2 linked regions of the Homo sapiens genome follow. The protein of the gene in region 1 purifies or fractionates together with the protein of each later gene. This does not show direct contact. Each region holds a gene or a part of one and is shown in the gene's direction. Other genes may lie near its edges.

Region 1 (3,973 bases):
TTTTTAAGGATCAAGCTAGTTTAGTTTACCTAAGAACATAGGCCTATGGGCATGACTACAAACCTCTTTCTGTTCCTCTTATGAAGGCCAGTATGTCATTTTAGAGTGCCCTGTTCAAATTTAAATGGGGTGACAATACCTCAGACTTGACTGCCTAGGTTGAATTTTTTCTCCTGGGTTTTCTATGCAGTGGGTATTTTCAGGTAGAGGCTAGAAAGCTTTAGCCTTTTTCCCAAGGCTTGCTGAATTGTAGGAGTTTTGTCTTAGAATGCTTTTTCTAGACACTTTAAGAACTTTAAGAAGATTCAAACTTATTACCCAAATTTCCTGTAGGCTTTGTTTTGTCAGTTTTTGCTTCTGTCTTGCCTGGAGGCCTGACACCTCCTGTCTTCCAGGTAAATTGACTTCCCTTGTACATCTTACCAGAAAGATATTTACCCTAACTTGTTACACAAACTATTGCCACAGTACCTGTGGATTTTTAAGTTAACTAACATGTGTATTTCTCTTTAAAGGTTTTGTGCACAGACCAAACAAATCACCCTCAGTCTTCCCAGCAGTCAGATGTGGTAACTAAGACTAGGACGGATAATATAGGTTGTGAGGTGGCAAACAACTTAGGGTCCTAAGATTTTGCCAAGACTGTCATCATTACCTGGAGTATAATGGGACTAACTATACCTCCCTTTAAGGACAATGGAAACATTCTATTGAAACCATCCTCACAGGGTTAACAAGAATTAGATGCTGGGTTCTGGACAGAAATATAGTTGTAATTAAGCATTAATCAGGCTGCACTTTGGCCCACTTCTTCGTAACCAAAAGTCCCAGAGCACCAGATGCTAACCATTTGCCTCCTCATTGTTCCTACAGAGAAGATTTCTGATGTTAGAATCATAAGGCCTTTGTTTGTTTAAAAATGGCTTAAGATGTTTTTCAGATCCTGAATTCCAGCAAAAGAGCTATTGCCAACCAGTTTGAAGACCGCCCCCCGCCTCTCCCCAAGAGGAACTGAATCAGCATGAAAATGCAGTTTCTTCATCTCACCATCCTGTATTCTTCAACCAGTGATCCCCCACCTCGGTCACTCCAACTCCCTTAAAATACCTAGACCTAAACGGCTCAGACAGGCAGATTTGAGGTTTCCCCCTGTCTCCTTATTCGGCAGCCTTATGATTAAACTTCCTTCTCTGCTGCAACCCTGTGTCTCGGTGTATTGACTTGCCATGAATTAGGCAACAAACCTATTACAGTTACAGTTACTTTTTTAAAGGAAATTCAATCGTTGGATTGGTCCACCTGCTTATTTCTTCCCTTTTCAAAAAAAATGTCTACATATTGAATTTTTATACATTAAGTGGTTCATGAAACCCCTGAAATGTGTTAGTAAATAGGGCAATTATGAAATATTTGGACATAGCTAGACTTTAAAAATTGTTAATCTGAAGGTCAGATAGACTTGGCCTTCTCCAGCTTTCGTGATTATTCCCTCAGCAGCAAGCTAGTCTTAGGCAGAGCAAGTTTAAAGACATTCATGGTGCTCACTCTGCAAAACTGCACAATTCTCAACATGCACAGAGGCAGACATGATAGGGCTCAGCCCTGGAATTGATAACACTAGCCAACACACTTGCTAAGAATTTATAAGATGTAGACCCTGTTATTATCCTGTCTTGCAAGTGATGAGAAAACTAAGGCTTAAGGATGTTAAGTATTATTAGTTCAAGGCCAACGGTAAGTGGCAAAGCTCAGATTTGAATCCAGGCAGTCCCACCCTAAAGGCCATTCTCTTAGTCTGTGTACTGCCCTCCTTGCTAAAAGAGCTCACCTCTCTAGCCACTTCCTTCTCCCTGTCCCATCTCCCCTTGTACCCTCCAAATAGTCTTCTTAGCCTCTTCACCTTATCTACTGGCCTATTTCTGCCTTGAGGACCTCCCACCTCCTCGCCTGCTGGACTTCTTCCTTACCTGCCTTGTTAATACAACCCTGCCCAGCACCTGCCTCCCTGGTCACACTACAGCCAGGTAGCAGAAACCAAAATGGGCCTGGATTTCCCCAACCAACTTGGTTCTACTTGCAAGATTCTCAGATCATGCTGAATCCTGCCTAGGCTACCCTCCCACTTTCTTTTCTTTACCATCTGACCACATGCCTAAATAAACATCACTTGGGCGAATACAGTGTTCCCCAAATTGCATTCATTCCCATTTTGTCATGATTTTTCTTATCTTTGTGGACCACCTAGAGCATTATTTACTTGATTCACTTTTTGAATTTTAGTATATATATCTTAAACTTTATATTTCAGCCTCAAAGAAAAACAAGTACTACCTGTAATTAGAAGTTAAGCATAAAAATAAACATAAGAGAAAAACAATGCTGATGATTTCCAGCTCTGCATAGTTGCTTGCCTTAGCAACTAGGAGTGAGATTCAGTCTCTGTGTTAAAAAGTGAGGCTAGCCACCATTAGAGGGGCATTTAATTCTAGCACCAAACCGAAACTCTCCATTTGGCATATTCAGAAGGATTAAAGAGAATAACCTACTGAGAGATTCAATGTAGATCACTTAAGATTATCTTAAACAGGAATATGACTGACTCCCAACTTTGGAGAAACAGCAGTGGAGGCCAGATCTTAAACCCAGAGCAAGCTGGCTTTAGACTTGCTTCAACCCTAAACCAGTACTCCTTTCCACCCACCCACCTCCCCCCAACCCCTGCAGGCATATCAAGAAGACAAGGTGCATGGGGGAAAACCAAAGAGTCAGCTTCCCTAGGGCTGATGGGTCAAATCTCAGTGCTTGCCTCTGACATTTTGCTTGCCGACAGTCTGTCTTGAAAACCAACAGGTTGCAAAGAAGAATGTGAACACCTATATCCAGAGATGCCCTATATAAGAATAAAGACTATAAGACCAAAAAGATGTTCTTGACTTAATGTTTGGGGTGGACATACCTAGTTATACGATTTGGCTGTTTCCCCACCCACATCTCATCTTGAATTGTAGCTCCCATAATCCCCACATGTCATGGGAGGGACCCAGTGGGAGGTAACTGAATCAAGGGGGAGGGTCTTTCCCATGCTGTTCTCATGATTGATAGTGATGGTTTTATAAAGGACATTTCCCCTGAATACGCTGTCTTGCCTGCTGCCATGTAAGATGTGGCTTTGCTCCTCTTTTGCCTTCCTCCATGATTGCGAGTCCATTAAACCTCATTCCTTTATAAATTACCCAGTCTTGAGTGTGTGGTTATTAGCAGCATGAGAACAAACTAATACACCTAGCAACTCCTTGGTAAGTATTATTTCTATATCTTCCTTACATATAAAGAATTAATCCTCAGCATAGCAAGAGTACCATTAGGACAACAAAGGTAAACATTCTGAAACTATGTACTGACTCCTCAGCCTCTTGAAGCCATCAAGACACCAACATCAGATTAATTGTGTAAAAGAACTCTCTTTATCTTCCCATATAACCCTCCAGGGTTATATGCACCTGCATTTTGGTGTTTTAGCTTCTCTCTGTATCCTTTGCCTACCAGAAAATGACTTTGAATTGCAGTTTCTTGAGCAGTAGTGAGAAAGGGTTATTGCCTTCACCATGCACAAGGAGCTCAACAGCCCAAGGGTTGCTGAATGAAGCTGCAGTTGTCTCACTCACCATGTGACAGATCCTTGATGAGGCTGGCAATCCTTTCGTTCCAGGAATTCAGCGTCTGCTCTCTGCATAGGTGAATTTATGCATTTGCTCCCTACACACTGGACTGAGTTCCGGGACAAGGGATTTGCAATGGCTCTTTTAGTCTATGTTCTAAATCACATTAGATGACAGGAGACCTGCATTTCTTATCTAATGTTGCCTTCTTCCTGGAGGATGGTAATTCTTTATGCAGGTATTGATACTTGGATTTGCTGCCACTATACACCCAAGCAGTTTTTCTACTTAATTTTAAAGCAATGGCATGTGTC
Region 2 (8,009 bases), on another chromosome or scaffold:
TACACTGGTATTTTGATATTCACCAGTCTAACTAACCCTAAAAACAAGTCTCTTCCTGATTATCTTCCTTCAGATTAGTTTGTAAGTTGCAGTGGACTACTCAATTGAATTGTAACAGTATTAAGTGTGCTCTTGGCATAATTGATGAGATCAGGCAGCAGAAAATGCTTAATCTGATGAATTTTATTGTATGTCAACATTTTTAAAGGGAAGGATAGGAATGTAGGAACACAGGTGCATATTGAATCCTCTGAAACTGGATCGTGTGCTTTATAAATATTACTAACAATAAAACAAATATTAGTGAATGAACCTCTTCTCTTTCCAATGTCTCTTCATTTCCCACCCCTTGTATTGAGGGGAAATGGGTCTCTTTGTTCCTTGCAGTAATCACCAAGGGGAGAGCTGGCAACAGAGAGGCAGATGGCCTGGATCATCTGGATCCTATATATGGTACCTGACTGGGGCTTCTACTCAGCTACTGCTGCTAACAGGACATCTGTTCCCAGAGCTCCCTGTGCCTTTCACATGCACAGGGTCTTCAAATAATGATGTAGGGACCCCCAACAAAAGTACCAAGCCCCTACCCCATCATTCAATAATGAAGCTTAACAATAGGCAAATTCTCCTATAAAGAGTAAGTTTCCAATCAGCATTTTATTGCTGGAAAGGACCATTAAAGATGATTAGATATTGGAGGATCGCTTCTGACATCAAAGTCAGAGACCAAAACAGCAAACGTAGAGAGAACCTAAAAGGAATAGGGTTCAGGAAGCAAAAATTACAAGAAATACATAAATAAATGAAAACTATTATTCACCTAGGAGAGATGAGCTCTTACATGTATCAGAGCAGGAGGCTAGAAAACAAATAAATGAACAAACTGAAAAACAAAGAAAAATAGGAAAATGTATGTAACCAAAAAGATCTCTTCACTTAGAAACAATAACATTCTAGTAGACAAACCTTGTGCTCAGATTTTGGATTCTTTTTTTTTCCAGTTAGGTCATCTTGGGTTCAGAACAGATCTTGGATTCTAATAACATTTTCCAATAAAAGGAACCAGGGCTCCTTGGGGAAATGGATGATTCTAGGGCTGGGGTGGGAAAGATGCAAGATGAGCCTGGAGCATCTTGTGGTATAGCATACCTGTATTCCCAGCTACTCAGAAGGCTGAGACAGGAAGGTTGCTTGAGCCCAGGAGTTTGAGGCTGTAGTGCACTATGATCACACCTATGAACAGCCACTGCACTCCAGCCTGGGCAATATAGCGAGACCTCATCTCTAAAAAATAAATAAATAAATAAAAATAAAGTCTATTTAAAGTGAAAACACTTAGAAATTAAAAATATAAGCCAGGCACAGTGGCTCATGCCTGTAATCCCAGCACTTTGGGAGGCAAACCTTGTGCTCAGTAGACAAAAAAGGAAGAAAAAGAAGAATCCAAGATCTGAGCACAAGGTTTGTCTACAATTATATATGTATGTGCATGTATATGTGTGTATATATATATACATACACATACATACACACATGTACATATATATAATTGCAGCAATTAAAAATATTAGAAATAATGGAGTATTCTAAAAATATTAGAAACAATGAAGTATTAAGAATTTCCTAGAGAGTAGATTAGAAAGGTAAATTCTTAAAAAATAGGAGTGAAAGAATAGTAAAATTAGGAAGTCAGACCAGGAATTTCTACTGAAAAAAGAAAGGGGCTGGGCACAGTGGCTCACATCTGTAATTCCAGCACTTTGGGAGGCTGAGGCAGGCAGATCACTTGAGCCCGAGAGTTTGAGACCAGCATGGGCAACATGGAAAAAACCCGTCTCTACAAAAAATACAAAAATTAGTCAGGCTTGGTGGTGCACGCCTGTAGTCCCAGTTACTCAGGAGGTTGAGGTGGGAAGATTGCTTGAACCTGAGGGGTTGAGGCTGTAGTGAGCTGAGATTGTGCCACTGCACTCCAACCTCAGTGACACAGTGAGACCCTGTCTCAAAAATAAATAAATAAAAATAAAACAAAATAAAAAGAAAGGAGAAAGGACAGGAGGGAAATAGGAAAGAAGAAAGATGAGGGAGAGAAGAGAGGTGAGAAGAATAAAAAAAATTTTTAAAGGGAAAAAAGAAAAAGGAAGAAGGAAAAAGAACGAAACAGTAATTATTACAGAAATAATACAAGAAAATGTCCCAGAATTGAAGGACTTATGTTTTCAGATTACAGAGCTCAAAACACTGGGCAGAAAAATAAACAAGAAAGCTAAGTTTTATTATGTTGAAATTTTAGACCATTGGAGATAAAGAGATCCAAAAAGCATCCTGAGAAAGTAGAAGCGACACCTAAAGGGAAATCGGAATGCCAGCGGATTTCTGAACAACTGCATTGAAAGTCAGGATATGTCTCTGGGAGCTTTCAAAATCCTAATTAAAATTACAGAATTCTAGACCTAGCCAAACTTCCCGTCAAGGATTTATGCTCCATTCACCCTTTCTCAGGAAGTTAATACAGAATATACTACATCAGAATAAAACAATGCAAGTAAGTAAATCAAGAAAGATAAACCACAGGATCTAAAAATTCAGCACAAGTAACCAACACATTTCTCAGGCCCATGGTGAGGAGAGTCCCAGGATAATATCCATTCAGTAGGCTCAGAGAACACAAGTGCAAACTGGAGCAAAAGGAGAAAAGGCTCCTAGAAGCATCTGGAGACCTCTAAAGAGATGTCTCGAGGAAAGATAATGGAACTGAGTGATTGCCAGATTTAACCATAAGGAATATTCTATCTAGTGCAAGAGTATTCAACTCAAGAGTCAAAGAAACGTCATTTAATATTTTATCTGTTATTTTACTTTCTTTCTGTAAAGCTAGGTAATTTTCTAGCCTATCATATTAACATAAATAGAACTTTAATATGGATTTTGAGAAGCAAATCAATGTAAAACAGTTGTTAAGAATACAGACTCTGAAGTCAGCCTGTCTGGCTTTATAACATGGATCTTGGCTTTATCTGCTATGTGATATTGGGCAAGTTACTTCACTTCATTGTGTCTCGCTTGTCTCATCTCTAAAATAAAGAAAGCAATAGCATTTTCCTCAGAATACCCGTAAAGCACTCAGTACATTTGGTCACCTGACATCATTATGATTGCCTCTCTGTGAGAATTGGTAAAGAGAGGACACAGGAAGTGAGGAGATGAGAAGAGGGAGGATAATCTGTAGGGGAATGGGGAAGGAGGAAGTTGTAAATTGGGAGGAAAATGATATAAAAAGTTTTGTTAAGAAAGTCTTGCTGTATGCTATACAATTCACCTCTTTCTGTTTTCTCAAAAAGCAATCCTCAGTAAAGACCTACATTACTTTTCTCTCTCTCTATATATATATATATGTGTATATATATATATATGTATATATATATATATATATATGTGTATATATATATATATATATATTTTTTTTTTTTTCTGAGCAGGATTTGTGGGGTTTTTTTTCGGGGGGAGGGGGTGGATGTGATACTGTACTAAGGTTGGTTTCTAGGTGGTTTAATGTAACTCTTATTACATATTTAGCTTAGAGGAGTCAGCAACTCCACCGCAAAGGCTGTTGTGTTTAATAACCATCTCCATTGCTTTGGCAATCTGTCTGAAACATCGTAGGCACTCAAAACAAAACAAACCAAGACAACTTGAACAAAATGAAACAAATAAGTGAAACAAAATTTTTAATTATAAAAGAAAATTTAGATGTTAGGCTTTTCTAACACCAATCACAGTATGAAAGATGAAGATTACAAACCTTAACCGGCTTAGTACAGAATACTTACAAAACGTAGAGCAGAGTTTCTCGGACTCTAACTCCTGACCTCAAGTGATCCGCCCGCCTCAGCCTCCCAAAGTTCTGGGATTACAGGCGTGAACCACCGCGCCTGGCATAGAGCAGGGTTTCTCAACCTCTGCACTGTTGTCATCTGCCGGATAATTCCCTGTAGTTGGGGGGTTGGTCTGGTGCCTAGTAGGGTGTTCAGCAGCCGACTTGTGACTTGGCCTCCACCCACCAGTTGCCCCCCGCCGCCACCCCCCCACCACCACCATTTGAGACAACCAAAAATATCTCCAGATGTTACCAAATGTCCCCCGGGGAGAAAACTCACTCCAGGCTGAGAAGTACCACATTAGACGTGTTCTAACAAAAATTACCTGTAACCCTCACCTAGAAATGTAAACTTTTTGTTTACATAAATAAAAATTACAGAGCACGGCTACATTGAACTTATTGTTCCATAGTCAGTTTTTTCTTCACTCAGTAATGCAGCATTAACATTTTCGTTATGTGATATCCCTCTACAGGATGAGTTTTAATGGATGCTGGTGCTAACATCGTATGAAATTGAGGTAGGAGGCGGGACTCTGACACCAGACCAGATTGAGGACTAGCTAATCATCATACTTTACATAAGGAATCCGTAGGATTGGAGAGTTGATTGTTTCAAATAAGGCTGGTTTCCTTATTTGGTTATTTCCTTAGAATAATAACTCCAAATCTGATTATTTCCTTAGAATACATTCTTATGAGTAGAACTGCAGCTCAAACTAAATTTGGTGCTGTCCAGTGGTATGGCGATGGACTTCAGAACATCCTCCACTCTTGCCCTCACCCCACAAGAACCCTTTACTCGGGATCCATTCTCACGCAGTCTTCCTCCCCGACCGCCCCGCGCGTCCGCTCGGCGGGATGACAAAGACCGCCTCGGGTGGGGTGGTGAGCAGTACCGGCCTCCTCCAGCAGGGGGCGCTGTGGGATCCGCCGCTGTCCGGGACGAACCAGCAAGCCGCTCTCGGTCCACACACGCTCTGTCTGCCTGCCCCGAGTCCCCCGGGAGGCCGCGGGGTTTGGGGAAGTGTTTCTAGGAGACGGCGCTCACCGGCTGCACCTGCGCCGTTGACGCCACCGGGGCCGGCAGACAGACCCGCGGCGCTGGCTGGTGGAGGGAGTTCCCGCTTGCTCTCTGTCGCTGTCACCGCCCTGTTTCTGTAGCCGTATGGTACGCCTGTGAGACCGGCTGCCGGCTGACGTCTCCTTGCGATGGAGCATATCCGGACGACCAAGGTAGTCGGGCGCGGGATCGCCAGTCTTCAGGGGCCCTGCTCTGACCCGGCTGAGGCAGGAGGAGACGAAGGCTCTGCTGGCCTGACTGGGGCTGGGAGCCGGCCCGGCGGAGACCCGGCCCGGGGCGGGAGGGTCTGGCCAGGCCTGGTCTGGGAGGGCAGGGTTAGCTTGGGCCAAGCGGGGTGCAGAGGCCTCCTGTACCTACAGGAGCAGGGGTCCCACTTTCAGCATCTTGGAGTGCGTAGAGATAAGTCTGGGAAAACTGGTCACCGCCCTCCTAGCTCTACGTTTTCTCGGGCAAAATTGGGGCTCCTTTAACTTTGGAGTCTTTCAGCCTTTCGTTGCCTCATCAACCGGAAAACCGTCTTCAAATTAACATTATGATGCTGTGTAAGCTTGTCCTTGCTCACATTTCATTGTCCCGTGTCACAGATTCACAGTACGAGTTTTGGAGGAACCGAGATCAGCACTCCGCTCCACCTCCCTTTGCTGTCTCGGTCTCCAGTCTTTCGCATCCGGTGTTTCCGTGTCTGTGCTTCATACTTCAGGCATTGTCCTGTGTCAGTAGTCAAGAGTTCTGGAGAAGGGAAAAATGTTATTCCATATTTTAAAAGGTCGGATGCAGCTTTATTCGATTGACCTTATTGCACTCCATGCTTAATTTTTGTGTGTGGAAGACCTTCATTTTGAGAACGAACAAATATTTTTATTTCGTTACAAATTTAAAAACGGAAGGAAATGACATCAGAATGTTACCAAATTACGTTTCCAACGACATTTAAGTTTAACTTTGAGAGGGAGAAAAACATAAATCGAGACGAGAAGAATAACATTTTAAAATCACTGCGAGCCCACTGCAAGGCAGCCTCTTGACGTTTTGGCAAAGCTGAAGCCCTTTAGTTGCTGCCCATCTTAAAATTACGGCTCATTTAGGGAACCACAGATGTTCGTTATCTTCATTGTTCCAAGAAGAATTTGTGTTTTTAAAAATTTTTTAAATGTTTCACAAACCTTTTAAAGGTATACATAAATTTTTATTGGAGCTTGTCTTTAACATTGTGCATACCGTATCTAGTAAAATTGAAGATTCTGAAAACTAACCCCTTAACATTTTTTTTTAAGAGAAGAAAGATAAAATAACTTGAGAATTCAAGTTGTGGGTACTTAAATTTTGAAAATGGAAGGGTGCTTAAGTCTATAACCAAACTCGTAGAAGGTGCACAGAGGAAAAGAGGACTAGAGTGGACATTGGATCAGGTTCTTGTATTGGTTCCAGATATGTATTATGTAGTAGCTAAGTGCACGTGACTTCCTTCTGCATCAGTTCGAAGCTCCTCTATTTTTCATATGCTTTCTACGGTGCATAGCACACAATCGAAAACCGGTAAAAGGCTGGGCACGGTGGCTCACGCCTGTAATCCCAGCACTGTGGGAGGCCGAGGTGGGCGGATCACTTGAGGTAAGGAGTTCGAGACCAGCCTGGACAACCTGGCAAAACCCCATATCTACTAAAAATACAAAAATTAGCCGGGCATGGTGGCAGGCGCCTGTAATCCCAGCTACTCAGAGGCTGAGGCAGGAGAATTGCTTCAACCGGGGAAGTGGAGATTGCAGTGAGCCAAGATGGCACCAGTGCACTCCAGCCTGGGCAATAGAGCGGGACTCAGTCTCAAAAAAAAAAAAGAAAGCCGGGTGGGGTGGTATGTACCTGTAGTCCCAGCTACTCGGGAGGCTGAGATGGGAGGATGGCTTGAGCCCACGAAGTGGAGGTTGCAGTGAGCCAAGATTGCGCCATTGCCCTCCAGCCTGGGTGACATAATTGGGGGGGGGGGGGCGGAAAAGAATAAAAAATCAGTAAAAGTAAACTGAATCTGATCAACTAGAGCAAATCCTATTCTTAGGTGGATGATAAGAGTGAACAGACTTGGAAAATATTTAGGATCCCTTGGTTATTTTAAATCTTTCCTCATTCAATTTATTATGAATATATATCTTTGTTTTTATTTGTAGAGTTGTAGCCCCTCTTATTAGCTCTTTGAAAGTTGTCACTGGTGACTTTCATTTTGTCTGATATTCCTCCTTATCTACCAACTGATGAACTTTTCTTCAAGTAATGCTCTGATTTTGACTTATCTTTACACAGTGGTCTCATGCTAGTGGTTTAATAAGGCCTTTTTAGAGACTAAGAAATTTCTGATGAATTGTCTATTAAAACTACTTTTCAAATATGCTCCTTTATTACTTTGGGTTGTTTTTCTAGTATTGGATCACTACTCTGGAGTAATATTAAGTGAGTGTATGTAGACCGCAAATAAATATTTTCTAGGTACCTAGTATGTGCCAGACACTGTATTGACACTGGGTATATAACAGCAAGATAGAGGTGGACCTCAGGGTACATTCTGTTAATTGTTGTGGGGACTGTAACATGTTCTTAAATTATTAATGTATTGGGAAATAACTTACTTTTAAAAGATTGGTTTGAACATAGCCAAACTTTTGTTTCCATTATGCATAGCCTTCACCTGGATTTAGTTAGTTTGCTGCAAAAATAAGTGTAAGTATTTAAAAAGCAAAAGTGGATTGTTTTAGATTTATTAGCTGTTTTGACCTCTATGTAGTTTAGTCATTAGGATCAAAATTGACCGTAGAGTGTCCTTTATGACTATTTAGTGATTTTTGTTGTTCAGTCAGCTCTATTTGAAAAGTAATAATTACCATTTATTGAGCAACTATATGTCAATATAGCCAATTATACAATATTATTACTTTATAATATGTACAATTGTATAAATCTGTTAATTTATACATTATCATCACTGATCTCTTAAATAACCCTGTCAGTTGGGTAGTATTATCTCCATTTATAGGTGAGGAGGAAATAGGCTTAGAGAAT

Evidence for each region.
Region 2: the proteins of FHIT (region 1) and MTMR6 purify together in Homo sapiens (affinity purification with mass spectrometry; 2 studies listed by BioGRID and IntAct, with this or other methods). This does not show direct contact.

What each region holds. Positions count from the first base shown.
Region 1 is NC_000003.12:59,746,536-59,750,508, reverse strand, and holds the end of FHIT (bis(5'-adenosyl)-triphosphatase), read left to right. Parts: exon of another isoform or gene 1-929; 3' UTR 930-3,232; downstream 3,233-3,973. UniProt on the Homo sapiens protein: Possesses dinucleoside triphosphate hydrolase activity. Cleaves P(1)-P(3)-bis(5'-adenosyl) triphosphate (Ap3A) to yield AMP and ADP. Can also hydrolyze P(1)-P(4)-bis(5'-adenosyl) tetraphosphate (Ap4A), but has extremely low activity with ATP.
Region 2 is NC_000013.11:25,284,328-25,292,336, reverse strand, and holds the start of MTMR6 (phosphatidylinositol-3,5-bisphosphate 3-phosphatase MTMR6), read left to right. Parts: upstream 1-4,848; 5' UTR 4,849-5,089; coding exon 5,090-5,113; intron 5,114-8,009. UniProt on the Homo sapiens protein: Lipid phosphatase that specifically dephosphorylates the D-3 position of phosphatidylinositol 3-phosphate and phosphatidylinositol 3,5-bisphosphate, generating phosphatidylinositol and phosphatidylinositol 5-phosphate.